Linked DNA regions of Homo sapiens. The protein of the gene in region 2 interacts with the protein of the main gene of each other region in a pairwise test. Each region holds a gene or a part of one and is shown on either strand. Other genes may lie near its edges. The genes, in order: HOXD10, GEMIN2, MTNR1A and BEND7.

Region 1 (5,276 bases), on a different chromosome or scaffold from region 2:
ACCTAGAGTCAAAAGTTATGTTTTGTCTTGTTTTGTTTTTCCGGCCATCCTCAACCCCCACCCCCAAGCTCGAAAACAGCCACCCCTGTGGAAAGGTAATGTTTAAACCCCAGGCTATGCTGGGATGCTGCAGCCAAAGCAGTTAGAGGCGCCAGGCTTTTAACCTGACAATGATGTTGTATTTGAACAGCTGCGTAAAGGTTTAAAAGGTCTGTCTCATTGCCACCGCGGAGTTTTTTAAAAGAGGTTATTGTTTGGGCGAGAGCACCGAGAGGGAACAGGCGAAAGGGTCCCAAGGCCGAAAATAATGTTCAACGCTTGTTTCAACCAGGCCAGGGGAGATTCCTTTTTGGGAAGAGGGACAAAGGGTTTTTTGGGAAAGGTTTTTGTAAAGGAGCGGGCGGGCTACTAGGTCCCCCAGAATGCTGAGGCGCTTTAATGAACCTCAGGCCCCAAAGAAATGTTCTATTGAGGTGGAAACCCAATTTACCCACAAGTTCAGTCTCTGGGCCTGAAATCCAAGGCCAGCCCATGCCCCAGCGAGTACGGGGAAAAGAGAACACAGATGCCCTCCCGGACTGAGAACTGGTTCATGGTCAGAGTTTCTGGGACCGCTTTAGTTTCTTGGCTGGCAGGAAGGGAACCTGGCAGGCCGAAGGACGGCTCCAAGCCCTGGCCGGCCCCTCACTCAGGGCAAGTCTTTGGAAATCAAGGTTAAAGCTCCCCGCTGCTGCCCCGAGGCCCGGGCTTCCGCAGGGCGGCTCACCCGCCTGCAGCAAGAGAGGGAGGGAGGAAGTTGTTGAAGTTTCTCATAAAACTCTGAGTTTCCATGGTGGTAGTGGTGGTAGTGGTGGTAGTGGTGGTAGTGGTGGTTCTTTAATGAGCCGGACCACAACCCCAGACCATATCCTCTTCATAGAAGTTTCCCTCACCAAAGGAAACAGAGAACTAAGATTCCCACCTCCTTCCCCTCCCTTACCCAAGCAAAGCCTTGTCAAATAATTTCAGAAATTGTCCAAAACTGTAAAACTCAACTTCTGACAAAAGTATAGCTTTTAATATTTGACAATTTGTATTAAAACAAAAATGACCTTCTTGGTTAGCAGCGAAGGGAAAAAAATCAATAGTATAATTTTCAATAATTCATAAAGCGAACGCCATTATGGTAAATTTAACTATTAATCTTATCCTTTACAAAGTCTCGATTGATTTGTTAATAAAGTATCTTCCCGTGTGTGGCAACAGCGGGCATAACTCTTTAAAAACCTTCAGAAGCAAGAAAATTACCAAGTAGCCCAAGAATGTAGATGAGAATTTTATTGATCGCCCTGATTCTTCTTAATATGTATTAATAAATTCCACAACCTTTTGTACCTTGCACTTGTCAGAAACCAGTGCTTTTACAAAATCCATAAAAGGAAAACATTTTTCTTTGCAGAAGAACCAAAATGACACCTTTGCATTTCTCTCTGTCCTTCTTGGCCCAGTCAGTTTTCTAAAACTTCTGGATTCTGAGGGTCAGAGTTTCCCCTTTTCTTAAATTATTTTTTCCTTTCTTCCTTCCTGTTTGCCCTCCATTATCAGGGTGTGGGGAGAGAAACCTCTGTTTAGTTCTCCTACAGGGAGCCCGAGGGACGCTTTCGCGGATAGTGAACTGCTGGCAAAGAATTGTCTCTGGGCTGAAAGCTCCCAGAGGTCCGGCCCCGCAGAGGTCAGGGTGTGGTTCCTCTGAGAGCCGAAGCCTCGTGTAGCCCTCCGGGGCGCATAGGAACCCGGAGCCAGGCAGGAGGACCGAGCGGGAGGACAACGCAGGGACCAACCCATCCATGGGGATCCGGGCCCGGCCAGCTGCTTGGCCTCCCGGCCCTCGCGGCCCTTTTTGCCTCCGCCCTCCTAGAGACACCTTGGCCGCTTCTTAGCCCCAAGGGATCTTTCCTTTGGACCCCTGGGGTGGGATGTCTCAGGGCCCGCGGAATCCGACTCACCTTCCCGCTGGGCTGCCCGGGACTAAATTAACCAGCCTGCGCCCCCACCCGCTTGTCCTGGACCCGGCCCTCTTAAGCGCGTTCTGCCTGGTTGTGTGTGGGGGGAATGCTTCTGTGCGCTGGCGCCAGGGCACTCTGGCTTCCCTCCCCGTCCGTGCGTGTCCACTTGGAGGCCCCTAGAGCTGAGACTTTCCTTCCGCCGGTTGGGCCCAGGGGCCGAAGCGGGGGACGCGAGTGGGGCGGGCTGGCCGAGCGAGCCCTGGAGAGGCGGACAGGAGGGCGGCGGAGAGCGCTGGGCCGGTTGTCTCCAGCGCGCACTATCGCGGGCGCGTAGTAGATGTCGCTGTTGTCCGTGCTTACCCGGCCGGCCGGCCAGGCTCTGGAGCACGTGACCCGAGAGGAGGCTGCGGCTCAAGGCCATTTTCAAATCTCATTGGCTTGGTTGTCATGTGGTCGGCAGAGGCATCCACAATTACACGGGGAATGTTTTCCTAGAGATGTCAGCCTACAAAGGACACAATCTCTCTTCTTCAAATTCTTCCCCAAAATGTCCTTTCCCAACAGCTCTCCTGCTGCTAATACTTTTTTAGTAGATTCCTTGATCAGTGCCTGCAGGAGTGACAGTTTTTATTCCAGCAGCGCCAGCATGTACATGCCACCACCTAGCGCAGACATGGGGACCTATGGAATGCAAACCTGTGGACTGCTCCCGTCTCTGGCCAAAAGAGAAGTGAACCACCAAAATATGGGTATGAATGTGCATCCTTATATACCTCAAGTAGACAGTTGGACAGATCCGAACAGATCTTGTCGAATAGAGCAACCTGTTACACAGCAAGTCCCCACTTGCTCCTTCACCACCAACATTAAGGAAGAATCCAATTGCTGCATGTATTCTGATAAGCGCAACAAACTCATTTCGGCCGAGGTCCCTTCGTACCAGAGGCTGGTCCCTGAGTCTTGTCCCGTTGAGAACCCTGAGGTTCCCGTCCCTGGATATTTTAGACTGAGTCAGACCTACGCCACCGGGAAAACCCAAGAGTACAATAATAGCCCCGAAGGCAGCTCCACTGTCATGCTCCAGCTCAACCCTCGTGGCGCGGCCAAGCCGCAGCTCTCCGCTGCCCAGCTGCAGATGGAAAAGAAGATGAACGAGCCCGTGAGCGGCCAGGAGCCCACCAAAGTCTCCCAGGTGGAGAGCCCCGAGGCCAAAGGCGGCCTTCCCGAAGAGAGGAGCTGCCTGGCTGAGGTCTCCGTGTCCAGTCCCGAAGTGCAGGAGAAGGAAAGCAAAGGTCGGTATGAGCAGAGTTGCCACCCCAGCGGGGCGCGCAGCCCGGGAACCCGGCAGAGAGGGAGTGCCGGGGTGCCCAGCGCCGAGCCGGAGCCCGACTTGGCAGGTGCTGCTCCGCCTGGTTTTAGAGGGGTGATCTCAGCCCTGAGATAGTCCCCGCTTCTCCCCTGCTGCCCTGGCCCTCTCCGCCAGTCCTGGCCCCACGCTGATGGCGCCCGGGCAGAGGAAAAGCTTGCCGGTTTTATTTTTCCTGAGCTAGACCTGAACACAACAAAAGAGCGCAAAGGAGACCTGCGGCTCATAAACACGACCACAGAGCCTCTTTTCTCCTGCTCAGATTTGCAGTTCCAGTTTTGCCTTGAGCCCAATGATCATGTTAAGGTGATCCAGGGCACCGTGTTCGTGTTCAAGTGTATGCACCCCGCATCCTGCGAGCTTGGGGGTGGTGAGGGGAAAGAGATGGCTGGGCTGGTTGGTGCTTGAGTTGGGAAACAGGGCTTACTGCCTTTGCTGGGCTAGGTAACCTTGGCTTTGTTTAGGAAAAGTGCTGCAGTCTTTGCAATCCGTCGGCAAAGAGGGCAAAGGCGGAGGGGGAGAGTGGAACCCGCATTGCCCTCCCTGCAAGGCCAGCCTTAGGGCTGGGCTAAGGCAAAGAGCCAGGGATCTGGCTTTTTGAGAAGGAACCCTCCTCCTCTCCCCCAGTGCTTAGAGGTGGGCCACAGTAGGGGGCTCCCTTTCTGGGGGAATGCTTTAGTGTGGGGGCAAGAAGACATGAAAATTAAGGAAATTCTGGGGAATGCAACAATACCCAGGCAAGGTGGGGGAAGGTGTCTCGCTTCCCCATTTATCTTTTGAAAGAGAATGGGCACCTATAAACCTGACTGTCAGGATTCCTGACTGCCTAGGAGAGGTGGGGAAGAAGTGGCAGATTTGGGGACCTGAGGCAGCAGTGGGGTTGGTAGGCTTGTCCAGGTCGTGGCGTATTCCCCTCCGTCCCTGTTAGGAGCTGAACCCTTAGAATGTTGCTGGGGAGATCTGGAAAGTTTACTATTCTACTAATGTTTTGTACAAGTGAGAAAGTTGAAAGAGAGAGCGAGAACCCAAATGCAGACTGTCCTGCCATCATGTCATTTAAGTAATGTGGCATCAATGTAAGATTCCCTTCCAAGGCCCACTTCATGTGAGTAATGTTTAATACTAGCATTTTCCAAAGCGGCCTGGCTGCCAGCAGGGTCACGGCCAAGGGTACATTTGAACAGTCTGAAGAAAAAAACAAAAACGAAAACCAAAACCAAAACCAAAACAAAAACAAAAACAAAAACAAACAAACAAAAAACCTCTTGATTTTTTTCTTCTTCTCCCTTTAATTTTGTTAGAGGAAATCAAGTCTGATACACCAACCAGCAATTGGCTCACTGCAAAGAGTGGCAGAAAGAAGAGGTGCCCTTACACTAAGCACCAAACGCTGGAATTAGAAAAAGAGTTCTTGTTCAATATGTACCTCACCCGCGAGCGCCGCCTAGAGATCAGTAAGAGCGTTAACCTCACCGACAGGCAGGTCAAGATTTGGTTTCAAAACCGCCGAATGAAACTCAAGAAGATGAGCCGAGAGAACCGGATCCGAGAACTGACCGCCAACCTCACGTTTTCTTAGGTCTGAGGCCGGTCTGAGGCCGGTCAGAGGCCAGGATTGGAGAGGGGGCACCGCGTTCCAGGGCCCAGTGCTGGAGGACTGGGAAAGCGGAAACAAAACCTTCACCGCTCTTTGTTTGTTGTTTTGTTGTATTTTGTTTTCCTGCTAGAATGTGACTTTGGGGTCATTATGTTCGTGCTGCAAGTGATCTGTAATCCCTATGAGTATATATATATATATATATATATATATATAAAAACTTAGCACGTGTAATTTATTATTTTTTCATCGTAATGCAGGGTAACTATTATTGCGCATTTTCATTTGGGTCTTAACTTATTGGAACTGTAGAGCATCCATCCATCCA
Region 2 (4,414 bases):
TTCTTTTTTTTTTTTTAGGATAGCAAAGATGATGAGAGGGTTCCTGCTTTGAATTTATTAATCTGCTTGGTTAGCAGGTATAGTTAATCCTTGGCTTCTTTATTATTTATCAGTGAGGTCAGTGAGGTTAGATCGTATTTATTACATTTGGTTTTTGTTTGGTTGGTTTTTTTTTGAGTCTCACTCTGTTGCTATAGTTAGGGTGCAGTGGCGCAATCACAGCTCACTAGAGCTTTAACTTCCTGGGCTCCAGCAATCCTCCCACCTCAGCCTCCTGAGTAGCTAGGACCACAACCAAGCACCACCACACCTGGCTAATTAAAAAAAATTGTTCGTAGAGACAGGGTCTCACTATGTTGCCCAGGCTGGTCTCAAAACTCCTGGGCTCAAGCGATCCTCCCACCTAAGCCTCCGAAAGTGCAGGGATTACAGGTGTAAAGCCACTGCATTCAGCCTGCATTTTTGTTTAATTGCCTGTGTCCTGCGTTCATTTTCAGTTGTGGCATATTTTTATTTAGTATCTGTTTTATTTCATTTCTTACATAGAAATTCTTCTTGGAATTTATTTGAAAACTTTTTTTGTTGTTTTGTTTTGAGACAGAGTCTCGCTCTGTTGCCCAGGCTGGAGTGCAATGGCACCATCTCGGCTCACTACAACCTTCACCTCCTGGGTTCAAGCAATTCTCCCCCCTCAGCCTCCCAAGTAGCTGGGCTTACAGGCACCTGCCATCATGCCCGGCTAATTTTTGTAATTTTGTGGAGACGGAGTTTCACCATTATTGGCCAGGCAGTAAAACACACATATTTATTTTAGGTCTCCTCCTGGACATATTTTTGTTCCATAGATCAGTGTTTTTATTTCATTGCCAGTACCTTTTTAAAGCTTTATAATATACTTAAATATTGGGAAGGCAAGTAATCTTGTTTCCATATTTTCACATATTCAATATCTAGTTTCTTGATCTACAATAATTATGCTGCTGATGATAATTAACATTTACTGGGCAATTTGTGCCAAGCATTTTTCTTAGTGAGGAACCCATTTAATCCTTCTAAGGTGGGTACTGTTAACAGTTTACAGATGAGGAAACCATGGCAGAGAGAGGTTAAATAATATTACTACCATCACAAAGCTAGTAAGTGTTAGAGTAATGATCCAAACCCAGGCAACTTTGACTCCGGAGCTAAACTTTTAACTATGCTGATCAAAAATTAAGCTAATACCTACCTCATCTGTTGGTAGTAGCAGTTAAATGAGATGATATAGCATTGCCCTACTTACTTTATGTATAGTATCTCTACTCTTTACAATAGATCAGAGTTGTGTTTTTGTTTTTGTTTTTGTTTTAATAAATTTTTTCCTTTCAGCTCTGTTGGACTTGATTTTTTTCCTTTTACAGATAATGACACAGATTCAGAAAGGTTAAGTAATTGGTAGCTCAGCAAACCAGTAATTAATGAAACCTCAGACAAGTATAGTTTCTGACTGCCTCAGTTGAGATTTTACAGTATTATGCAATTATGAAAGCAAAAACATTCAAGTGTATTTTTTGCCCTCAAAAAGTTAGATAAAAATGGAAAAAGTTCTAGACTACAAAAGGTTCTGAAGCTAACAGCTTTACAATAGAAGACACAAAGATTTGAAAGTTTAGGAAAAAAAGGACCGGGCATGGTGGCTCATACCTGTAATCCCACCACTTTGGGAGGCCAAGGCGGGTGGATCACCTTAAGTCAGGAGTTCAAGACTAGCCTGGCCAACATGGTGAAACCTCGCCTCTACTAAAAATAGGAAAATTAGCCGGGCACGGTGGTTCACGCCTGTAATCCCAGCTACTCGGGATGGTGAGGCAGGAGAATCACTTGAACCTGGGAGGTGGAGGTTGCAGTGAGCTGAGATCGTGCCATTGCACTCCAGCCTGGGCAACAAGAACGAAACTCCATCTCAAAAAAAAAAGAAAAAAGAAAAAAAAAAGGAAAGCTGGGCACAGTGACTCACACCTGTAAGCCCAGTGCTTTGGGAGGTCAAGGTGGGAGGATTGCTTGAGTCCAGGGGTTCAAGAATGCAGTGAGCCATGACAAAATCTGATTAGTGATTTTCCTTTTTATTTAATCTTATAATTACATAAAATAGTTACCTTGCCAAAGTTAAAATTATAATTCAAGGTACATTTGGAGTATTTTAGCATCCATCTTTATCCTCATTATCCTCTTTTTTCCTTTCTCCTCTAGTTAACCATTGTATTACTAATTTTTGTTTCATCTTTTCATTCATTGTTTCTTTTTAAAAGTATAAGTAGGCCGCATGTGGTGGCTCAAGCCTGTAATTCCAGCACTTCGAGAGACTGAGGCTGGAGAATTGTTTGAGCCCAGGAGTTCAAGACCAGTCTGGGAAATGAGCCATGATCATGCCACTGCACTCCAGCCTGGGTGACAGAGTGAGACCTTGTCTCAAAAAGGAAAAGAAAAATATAAACAAACACGTATATTGGCAGTCCTACACATACTCACATAAGGTAGCATACAGAACAATCTGTTCTGTACTTCGTTTTTTTTCACTTAATAAATCCTGGAAATCATACTTTAGCAGTATAAATACGTTCCTCATACTTTAGCAGTATAAATATTTCCCTCATTTCTCTTTTTATGGCTTCATAATTTTCCACTATGTAGACATACTATAGCTTATTTAACCAGTTTCTTATTGATGGACGTTTGGGTTGCTTATGGTCTTTGGCTATTAAAAATAGTGCTACAGTTAATATCTTTATACATAAATTTTTTGTTTTTTTTTTACTAGGTATTTTGACCAACGTGATTTAGCTGATGAGCCATCTTGATGTAGCTGATCTCTCAGGGATAGAAGATATTTCTCATGAAGGCAGCCTAACTCTGAGGAAAACAATGCCAATTCAAGTACAGATTTCAACACATCTTCAACACTATGTGAAGGGTTCACATCTTAACCTGTGCAATTCAGATTGATACTCAGAATATGGGTTGATTTGAATATCTGAAATATCAATGGAAAATCCCACTCAGTTTTTGATGAACAGTTTGAACAGTTTTCTGTAATCAAGCAGCTTGCATAGAAATTGTATGATGAAATTTTACATAGGTTCTTGGTGCTGTTTTGTTCTTTTTTTGTTTTTTGTTGTTTTGTTATTTACTTATATACATATAAAATTTTATTGAAAATATGTTTTGGTTACTAAAATTTTGTTTGACTCCTAACAAAAGACAATGGATGGCCTTAGCATCAGAATTAAAATAATCTGGATTAAATGGCAATGTGTTCATAGTCAGCAATAAAATTAAACATTTTTCCCTTTAAGCTCAGCACTTTTTTTTTTTTTTTTTTTTTTTCTTTGAGATGGAGTCTCGCTCTGTCATCCAGGCTGGAGTGCAGTGGCAGGATCTCAGCTCACTGCAACCTCTGCCTCCCAGGTTCAAGTGATTCTCCTGCCCCAGGCTCCCGAGTAGCTGGATCTACAGGTGTCCGCCACCAAGCCTGGCTAATTTTTGTATTTTTAGTAGAAACAGGGTTTCACCATGCTGGCCAGGCTGCTCTTGAACTCCTGATCTCAGGTGATCCGCCCGCCTCAGCCTCCCAAAGTGCTGGGATTACAGGCATGAGCCACTGTGCCTGGCCTCAATATTTTTATTTTTAAATGCTTTATTGCACAAATAGAACTTTATCTAACAAATCACTTTCAAAAATAACAGGTCAACTGTTTTAATTTGTTTATGTCACTTATAACTTACCTATTTCTGTATCAGGTAGGAATGTTTTCTGCTTTAAGTAACACAAAAGATCCAAGTGGCAATGGTTCTTCAAATAGGGGTTTTTCTCAGATAACAAGAAGTCTAAAGGAGCTGGCCACTGGCATTGGTTTAGTGACTCAGTGATATCAGGGGCTCAGATTCCTTTAGCCTTTCTGTCATGGAAACAAGATGGCCATTGCAGTTCAAGCCAATGTGTCTGTATTCAAGACAAAAAGAAGGGGAAGCAGGGCCTTCCACATCTGATCCTTTTCTCATAAATGTAAAATCTTTTCTAGAAATTTAGATCAGACTTGTGTTCATCTGCTAGCCATAAATGTACAACATGATCACCCCTTGTTCCCAGGAAAGTGGGAAAATGAAGCTGTACGCCTTTCCAGTCTCACTAATGGAAGGTGGGAAAGGAAAATGGGGATTGGGAATTACCATGGATCAGACAACCAACAGTTTTGCCACCAGTTATAATTAGAGCAGAGGTCATTTTATATTTGAATCTTTTCTGTAATGTCTTCATAAAGCTCACTTTATTATTATTTTTGTTTGTTTTTGAGACGAGTCTCGCTTGGTTGCCCAGGCTGGAGTGCAGTGACGCAATCTCGGCTCACGCAACCTCCACCTCCCAGGTTCAAGTGAT
Region 3 (4,045 bases), on a different chromosome or scaffold from region 2:
ATTTAAATGTTTCAACGCTAATTGAAAGTGATCTGTGGGAAAATAAATTTGCCTTTGTAACTTTAATTTGGATGAATACAACCAATTTTTAAAGTATTTGCTTTTATGACAATTTATCTGAAATTCCTAAATAAATGGCACAAATTTTGCCTTTCTCTCATCTTGACTGCTATGGGCTGTCTCATTTCAAATATTGGGAAGTGACAGTTTAATGAACTCATTGAGTGTATGAGCAAAAGTCACTGTATTTATTGGGTGTGGTCTAGGACGCAAATATGAGGAAATGTACTCACGAGGGCCACCATCTGGAGACGCAGGGAAGCCTGGCCTACAGGTCAATAGAATAGAAGGCGAAATCTTCTGTCCGTCCACCTGGGGCTCCCTCTGTCCCTGTCCAGCGCACCCCTTTCCTCACAGCTTCTGGTCTGTGCGTGCTCTGGTGCTGCTGCTTACTCTAGTGTAATTTTCTTTTTCTTTTTTTTCTTTTTTTTTTTTGATACGGAGTTTTGCTCTTGTCACCCAGGCTGGAGTGCAATGGCGCGATCTCTGCTCACTGCAACCTCTGCCTCCCAGGTTCAAGCAATTCTCCTGGCTCAGCCTTCCAAGTAGTTGGGATTACAGGTGCCCGCCACCACGCCCAGCGAATTTTTGTATTTTTAGTAGAGACGGGGTGTCACCATGTTGGCCAGGCTGGTCCTGAACTCCTGACTTCAGTTGATCCACCCACCTTGGCCTCCCAAAGTGCTGGGATTACAGGTGTGAGCCACTGCGCCCAACCACTCTAGTGTAATCTTTTTGACTTTTCCTGTCTCTCAATTCCTGTTTCCCCCTGCACCAAATATATGCATTTAATATGTAAACTGAATTGAATTTATTATAATTTAATCTGAGTAAAAAGCAGTATAAAGTGCTTTAAGACCCTTCAAAGGAGGAAGCTCTTACCACTAGGTGGGCAAATGAGCAAAGGCTTCTGGCATTTCTATTTGAGATAGACTTGGGAGAATGGGCAGGATTTAGAAAGTTGATGTGAGGAGCCATTCGAGGCAGAAGGAATAGTAAGAAACAGAGGCAGAAGAGCCGCAAAAGAAAAAAAACATATTTGCAGAACATCTCATAATATTTGACTAATGTAGCTGGGAGCAATGGCTCACACCTGCCATCCCAGCACTTTGGGAGGCCGAGGCAAGTGGATGGCTGGAGCCCAGGAGTTTGAGAGCAGCCTAGACAAAATGGCAAAACCCCGTCTCTACAAAAATACAAAAACGAGCCGGGTGTGGTGGTGTGCACCTGTGGTCCCTGCTGCTTGGGAGGCTGAGGTAGGAGGATTGCTTGAGCCCTGCAGGCGGAGGTTGCAGTGAGCCAAGGTCGGACCATTGCACTCCAGACTGGGTGACAGAACAAGACTCTGTCTCAAAAAAATAAAAATAAAAAAGTGACTAGAGTTTTTTTTTTCTGTAATTAAATATGTGTTGTTATATTAATTGAGAAAATTAACAGACTATTTAGGGTTTAAGTTTTGTAACGTAAGTTCTTTATAAGATCTAAGAGAATTTCTGCATTTTCCTTTGGTTCAAGGTGAGGGAGTCGTAGAATAAGAACATTTCTATGGTGTAAGACACGGTACATGGCGCTCACCACAGATAGTCTCATCTCGTGCTCACCACAGCCCTAAGAGGAAGCTGCTCATTATCCCATCATCCAGGGGAGGAGGCAGGTGCTTGGGGAGATCAAGTAACTTGCCCCGGTTGGACAGTTAGTAAGGAGTGAAGCCATGTTCTCATCCAGACGGCTGACGACAGATCCCTCTTGCCCTTAACTCCCTCTCTATGGGATCAGCAAGAACAGAAGCTAGAGGCCCCCTGAGAGCTGCTGAAGCACTACAGAGGGAATGAAGACTTGAACTTAAGGAAGTTGTGGCTGGCTTGACATCATATGAGATTTCTCAGGTGATGTAGAAGGCTCCAGAACAACAGATGGTGTGCAAGCATTCTGATCTCAGGACTTTTTAAGAGATGAGAAGCCGAACGGTTTGAAAGACAGCAGTTTTGAACATGGAACAGGCCCTGTTCTGGGGAGGTGGGAATGTGTGAACAGCGGATTCGATGTGTCAGGAGCGGCAGTGGACTGGCCCTCCTGGGAAACGGCCTCCACTTCATTTGCAGTGCGGCCGCCGCTGTGACGTCAGGTCATCGGAGCTGCAGAAGCAGCTCCTTCTTTAACAATTGTAACAGAAAACCCACTGTGAACTGGTATTCACTGTATTTTCTAAACGATTCTCTTTCAGGAAACATCTTTGTGGTGAGCTTAGCGGTGGCAGACCTGGTGGTGGCCATTTATCCGTACCCGTTGGTGCTGATGTCGATATTTAACAACGGGTGGAACCTGGGCTATCTGCACTGCCAAGTCAGTGGGTTCCTGATGGGCCTGAGCGTCATCGGCTCCATATTCAACATCACCGGCATCGCCATCAACCGCTACTGCTACATCTGCCACAGTCTCAAGTACGACAAACTGTACAGCAGCAAGAACTCCCTCTGCTACGTGCTCCTCATATGGCTCCTGACGCTGGCGGCCGTCCTGCCCAACCTCCGTGCAGGGACTCTCCAGTACGACCCGAGGATCTACTCGTGCACCTTCGCCCAGTCCGTCAGCTCCGCCTACACCATCGCCGTGGTGGTTTTCCACTTCCTCGTCCCCATGATCATAGTCATCTTCTGTTACCTGAGAATATGGATCCTGGTTCTCCAGGTCAGACAGAGGGTGAAACCTGACCGCAAACCCAAACTGAAACCACAGGACTTCAGGAATTTTGTCACCATGTTTGTGGTTTTTGTCCTTTTTGCCATTTGCTGGGCTCCTCTGAACTTCATTGGCCTGGCCGTGGCCTCTGACCCCGCCAGCATGGTGCCTAGGATCCCAGAGTGGCTGTTTGTGGCCAGTTACTACATGGCGTATTTCAACAGCTGCCTCAATGCCATTATATACGGGCTACTGAACCAAAATTTCAGGAAGGAATACAGGAGAATTATAGTCTCGCTCTGTACAGCCAGGGTGTTCTTTGTGGACAGCTCTAACGACGTGGCCGATAGGGTTAAATGGAAACCGTCTCCACTGATGACCAACAATAATGTAGTAAAGGTGGACTCCGTTTAAAAAAGCACCACGTTCCGGGTGAGATGGACACGCTGCGCAAGGCCTCGCTCTTGACAGATGTCTGGGAAAGCAGAGTGGTGGAGGAAACTTCCAACTTTTACCTGGCTGCTGCCATAGTTTCTGAGCTAACGTGCTGTCAGCATTATAAACCCCTCCAATTCTACTAGTCAAGAGAAGTACAGAATGTATGGAGAGTTACATGTTAACTGAGGAATGCGGTTCAGGGCTGGGGTGAGAGTAAGCTGCTGAATGCATTCAGGGGAAGGAGTGTGCAAACTTTTATTGTAAATGAGTGCCACAAAAGGGGTAATTGCATTCTTCTTCACTTTTTGAAGACTTCTAGCAGAAAAATGAAAGAGAATTTTATTTATAAATGAGCAAATGGAACAATTTTTTTTCTGTAAATGGAACAAACAATGAAAGTGGGGTGAGTGCCTCTTATTACAGAGGGAAAGGCTGAACATAAATCAGTTAATGGCTCATCAACAATCACAACCACAACCAACACCACAAACCTTTCAGCTGGCAGAGTTAGCATTGGGTAGCTATACTCATGGTCATAAATGTTTGCTGCTCTATATTACAAGTTGTGCATGCAACCAGATAAAGAACTAAATCATAGGCCGGGCACAGTCGCTCACACCTGTAATCTCAGCACTTTGGGAGGCTGAGGTGGGCAGATCAACTGAGTTCAGGAGTTTGAGACCACCCTGGGCAACATGATGAAATCCCATCTCTAAAAAAATACAAAAAATTATCTGGGCATGGTGGCACACGCCTGTAATCCCAGCTACTCAGGAGACTGAGTTAGGAGAATCCCTTGAGCCCCAGAGGCAGAGGTTGTGGTGAGCCGAGATCGCGCCAGTACATTCCAACTTAGGCTACAGAATGA
Region 4 (4,838 bases), on a different chromosome or scaffold from region 2:
AACTTGCAATGGCTCCCTCCTGCCCACAGATAAAGGCTGAAGGCCTCACCTGGACTTTCACTCTCTCACCCCACCCTGCTTTTACCAATGCCAGCCAGACAGCTGTTCTAGCAACACTGGGCCACTTGCCCAATCCTATGATTTTGTTTTTTTGTTTTTGTTTTTTTTTGAGACGGAATCTCCCTCTGTCACCCAGGTTGGAGTGCAGTGGTGTAATCTCGGCTCACTGCAACCTCTGCCTCCTGGGTTCAAGTGATTCTTATGCCTCAGCCTCCCGAGTAGTTAGGACTATAGGCATGTGCCACCACATCCAGCTAATTTTTGTATTTTTAGTAGAGAACGGGTTTTCCCATGTTGGCCAGGCTGGTCTCGAACTCTTGACCTCAGTTGATCTGCCCACCTTGGCCTCCCAAAGTGTTGGGATTACAGGGGTAAGCCACCATGCCTGGCCTCACTTTTCTTTAGAAGCATGTTATTCTTCCAAGACAATCAACAGCTAACTGAGTTTTCATTAGCCGGGGGTGGTGGCAAGTACCTGCAGTCCCAGCTACTCAGGAGGCTGAGGTAGGAGAATTGCTTGAACCCAAGAGGCGGAGGTTGCAGTGAGTGGAGATCATGCCACTACACTCTAGCCTGGGCGACACAGCGAGACTCTGTCTAAAAAAAAAAAAAAAAAAAAATGCTTAGAAAATTTAAGGACTGAATGTACTTTGTGTTGAGGAATAATTTACCTCTGTTTCCGAATATGTGATCTACCTGGGGTTTGACTCAGGGCCCTAGTTGCAATAGCAATATGATATCATTGCATGAGCTGACTGGTCCAGCATAGAACGTTATCATCATTAATGATGTTTTAAAATTAAATTTTTAGACTAGATGAACTTCTTAACAATTGTAGCAAGTGTTTATAGATTTCAAAAAAAAAAAAGAACCTTTAACACCGAGAATTAGGTAAAAGTTCCAACAACTTTCCAATCTAAAAAAGTCACAAGATGATGATTTTTGTCCCCTCCCTTTGTTAAAAACCCAATGTGGATATACCCTAGCAAACTGTCTTCCCACAATTTCTTTCAAAATTTTTAAAACTTTTTTAAAAAGCAATTTGTTTCCTACTTAAAGTTTAAAAGGTATGGCCAACCTCCAATCCTATACAGGCCTGCGGGAGTTCGCAGCAGGATTCTCGTCCTATGCAATCTGATAAGAACAGATCCCCCATTCTTGTTTATTTTAAGAACTCTCCCAACAAGTTAAGGTTCACAACACAAACATACTTAGAGAAAGACATTGTAAATAGAAATGCAATTGCAAATATAGTGCACTATTAAACACATTCGTTTATGGTCCTATGAATGTAAAATAGCAAGTCAGATGGTTATCTCGGATGTCATCCAACATTCTGGACTGCGGCAACATTCTGGCTGTGATATTAAAATAGAAAAACCTTTGCAGAGCCTTAACCTATCATTACACGGAGTAAATGGCATGGCGCTGCCACCTAATTAGTGGTGTGGCTTGCATCTATAAAATAGAATTAGCATGACTGCTCCTTTTTTATTATTAGTTTGTGTTTCCAGAAAGGTGCGATCTTATCTGTATGGCCCTGTTCATTTATGCCCATCTACAAAGGATTTAATTATATTCTTTTAGGTCTCTACACTAAGGAAATTGAAAATTGTCACTGCAAAATTAAAAATGCAAAAGAAATTAGTGAGCAGATTATTTACGCCATCACCCTCCTCCTTTCGGAGACAAAAACTGGAAACCTGTCTAAATAAATAAGGCATCACATTTTCAGAAAAGAAAACTCCAGACAAGAAAATTATTACCAGTCTTCTTTTCTTCTTTCCCACATATAGTCTGCAAGTTTCTCTAGTTGTCAAAAGGGAAATCTATAAATACTATAAAATTCCCAAAAGTTACATAGCATTAGAGTCAGCAGCCAGAAAATGGCAACTTACATCTGAGGAAGGTGATTCCAGAACAATGCCGAATCCTAGAACGCGGCTCTCCTCCGGGGAGGTGTGCTCGGCTGCCTGGAGAGCAGATAGCTCAGAGGCCACCACCGACTTTTTCTCCATCTCTGACCCACTGGGCTTCTGTTTCACAGTAAGAGGTTCCACAGTCTTTGGGGGCACTTTTTTCTTTTTATTTCTCTTTCGTGAGACAGCAGTTCGCTGGGAGCATATAAGGGAAATTGGAGGTTGTTGTCTGTTTTGAGTTCCAACTGCGAATAATAAACAAAAATATGGTACAGGCACGTGTGTCTGACTTAGGAAAACTTATCTCCGGTCTATCCATGTGATCTACAAACTGAAACCGAAACGAGGAAAACTCCAGGATGAAGCACACTAAATAAATCTCCAACTGGACCTAAAGGTTACCAAACGCAGGCTCTGAAGCACTTTCAAGTCCTAAAGGCAGAAAAATACTCAGGAGAAAGCGTTACTGCAGGTGAATCGTGACAGCATACTGCTGTTGGGTTCAATGCAGGGAAAGGATCATGAGCTGTGAGAAAACACCTGAGCATGGCTTTATAAATCATAGGATGTTTTTAAATAAATGAGAACTTCGGGATTTAAATTTAGATAGAGACGGCTGTGCTTCCTTGTAATCCTGTTTCAGGATTACATTTGGGGTTAGACTGATCCGTTCCTAATAATCTACAGGTGCCAAAACTGATAAAGATGAGACAGTGATGATCATTTGCGCAAGACTGATCAAAAGAAGCCGTCTGGGATGATTCTACATTAGGGACCAGTAAGCATGTGGGAAAAGCCTATTAGTTACTTAATTAGGACCAGTGAATCCTTCCTCACCAAACAAATATTCTCCACACATCAACCACCTCCAGAGCACCCTGCTACATGGCCTCAGACCAGGCTACTTCTCTAGACCTCGGTTTCACATAACTGAAGGAGCAATATCATTCTGTACAAGTCAAGCAAATCAGTGAAATCTAGAAACAGTTCCAAACATGAAAAGCACAGTACAGGAACCAAGTATTCAACCTGATTCTATACTTAAAGAAATCCAGGATGGTAAATTACAGTTCTCACAGGTGCACTCTGAGAAGTTATGTTTGCTAGCCATTTAAAAATACTCTCTTGGAAAGTGTAATTGGAAAACATGGCATCATTGTTTAAATCCTCAAGTATTAATATAGCTTCCTAAATATGACTATAGGATGTCCCTGCTTTTCAACAGAAATGAACCTATAAGACAAGTGAAAACTAAAGGTCTTTAAAGGCATATAAACATGAATCACCTCCTCTTACCTCTTATCAGTCTGAAAATAAAGAATATTTACACTTTGATCCTGATATTTTTGTCTCCAAATTCAAAAGCAATTCATAAATATTAGAAGCAAACTAATTGCACTACATAAGAGCACAGAAGTTTTTAAACCAGTAATTAGTCTAGCTCAATGGTTCTCAACCTTGGTTGTACATTAGAATCACTTGAGTTTAAAAAAACTGAGATGCCGGGCCAGGCATGGTGGCTCACCCCTGTAATCCCAGCACTTTGGGAGGCCGAGGTGGGCGGATCACGAGGTCAAGAGATCGAGACCATCCTGGCCAACATGGTGAAACCCCGTCTCTACTAAAAATACAAAAATTAGCTGGGCATGGTGGTGGGCACCTGTAGTCCCAGCTACTTGAGAGGCTGAGGCAGGAGAATCACTTGAACCCAGGAGGCGGAGGTTGCAGTGAGCCGAGATTACGCCACTGCACTCCAGCCTGGCGACAGAGTGAGACTATGTCTCAAAACAAAAACAAAAACAAACAAACAAAAAAACTGAAATGCCTCAGCCCCACCCCAGACGAAGTGAACTGACACCTCCAGGCATGCTGCCTGGGAAACAGCATTGTCTGAAAGCTCTTCCAGTGATTCTGCTGTGCAGCCAGAGTTGGGAACTTCTCTTTGGTCTCTCTGCATTCCCCCTCAAGGCTGGGTCTGCACCCTCAGAATCAAAGGGACCTCGAATAATGATCACGATGGTCTAGGCCCCAGGCCTTGCTAAGCCTCATGATTCTCAATTAGAAATGAAAATGTTTTGGTTTAAGGAACACGGGGACTATCTGAGTTTTTCTTCTCCTTTTGCAAATCTAGACACAGCCCAAGTCTCTGGCATCCAGATCTTACCTCTAGGTCTTATTCCCTGTCTTCTTAAAAGAAAGGTGAAACTTTCTAAATGTAATTTAAATCTAAGTCTTCAGGCATTAAACCTTAAGTAAATCTACCCACATGACACAAATTTTTAAGTTTAAGAAAATTAAAGGAGAGTAATTTATTCAGTTTATCCTTTGTGCCATCCTACAGCTTTGGAATCGTTTACCTCCCTAATCTGCAAAGGTTCAGAAAAGAAAACATAGCGACAAAGTGGCATTTACTTAATAGATTCTAAAAAGGCTTCCGTCAAGGATTTAAATGGTTGCAATTTGTAGTTTGCCATTTCAGTAGTAAGGAGCTTAAGTGACAAAACAAATCATTACAATTTCATATGCATATTTTCTTAAGTGCTAACAAATTCCTCCTCGGAGAAAAGAATCCGAACATCATAAAGTAACCTTTCTTTCTGAGCTCCTTATTTAGGAGATGTTAACCTCCTCCAGGTTAATAAGAACACAGATTATCGTAGTGGAACAAGGTGAGTCCAATGCTTACTGACCTGAGCAAAATACTTCCTTGGGGTAAAACCAAATTCAGTGCTTAAAAAGATGCTGTTTAGCCCGGCGCGGTGGCTCACGCCTGTAATCCCAGCACTTTGGGAGGCTGAGGCGGGCAGATCACCTGAGGTCGGGAGTTTGAGACCAGCCTGACCAACATGGAGAAACCCC

The links.
Region 1: the proteins of GEMIN2 (region 2) and HOXD10 interact in binary tests that used the Homo sapiens proteins (3 or more experiments, as listed by UniProt).
Region 3: the proteins of GEMIN2 (region 2) and MTNR1A interact in a two-hybrid assay, tested with the Homo sapiens proteins (one large-scale study listed by BioGRID and IntAct).
Region 4: the proteins of GEMIN2 (region 2) and BEND7 interact in binary tests that used the Homo sapiens proteins (3 or more experiments, as listed by UniProt).

Annotation. Positions count from the first base shown.
Region 1 is NC_000002.12:176,114,302-176,119,577, forward strand, and holds the start of HOXD10 (homeobox protein Hox-D10), read left to right. Parts: upstream 1-2,476; 5' UTR 2,477-2,532; coding exon 2,533-3,277; intron 3,278-4,652; coding exon 4,653-4,930; 3' UTR 4,931-5,276. UniProt on the Homo sapiens protein: Sequence-specific transcription factor which is part of a developmental regulatory system that provides cells with specific positional identities on the anterior-posterior axis.
Region 2 is NC_000014.9:39,133,643-39,138,056, forward strand, and holds the end of GEMIN2 (gem-associated protein 2), read left to right. Parts: intron 1-18; coding exon 19-77; intron 78-2,797; coding exon 2,798-2,837; 3' UTR 2,838-3,331; downstream 3,332-4,414. UniProt on the Homo sapiens protein: The SMN complex catalyzes the assembly of small nuclear ribonucleoproteins (snRNPs), the building blocks of the spliceosome, and thereby plays an important role in the splicing of cellular pre-mRNAs.
Region 3 is NC_000004.12:186,532,797-186,536,841, reverse strand, and holds the end of MTNR1A (melatonin receptor type 1A), read left to right. Parts: intron 1-2,284; coding exon 2,285-3,153; 3' UTR 3,154-3,187; downstream 3,188-4,045.
Region 4 is NC_000010.11:13,490,653-13,495,490, forward strand, and holds part of BEND7 (BEN domain-containing protein 7), read right to left. Parts: intron 2,225-4,838; coding exon 1,959-2,224; intron 1-1,958.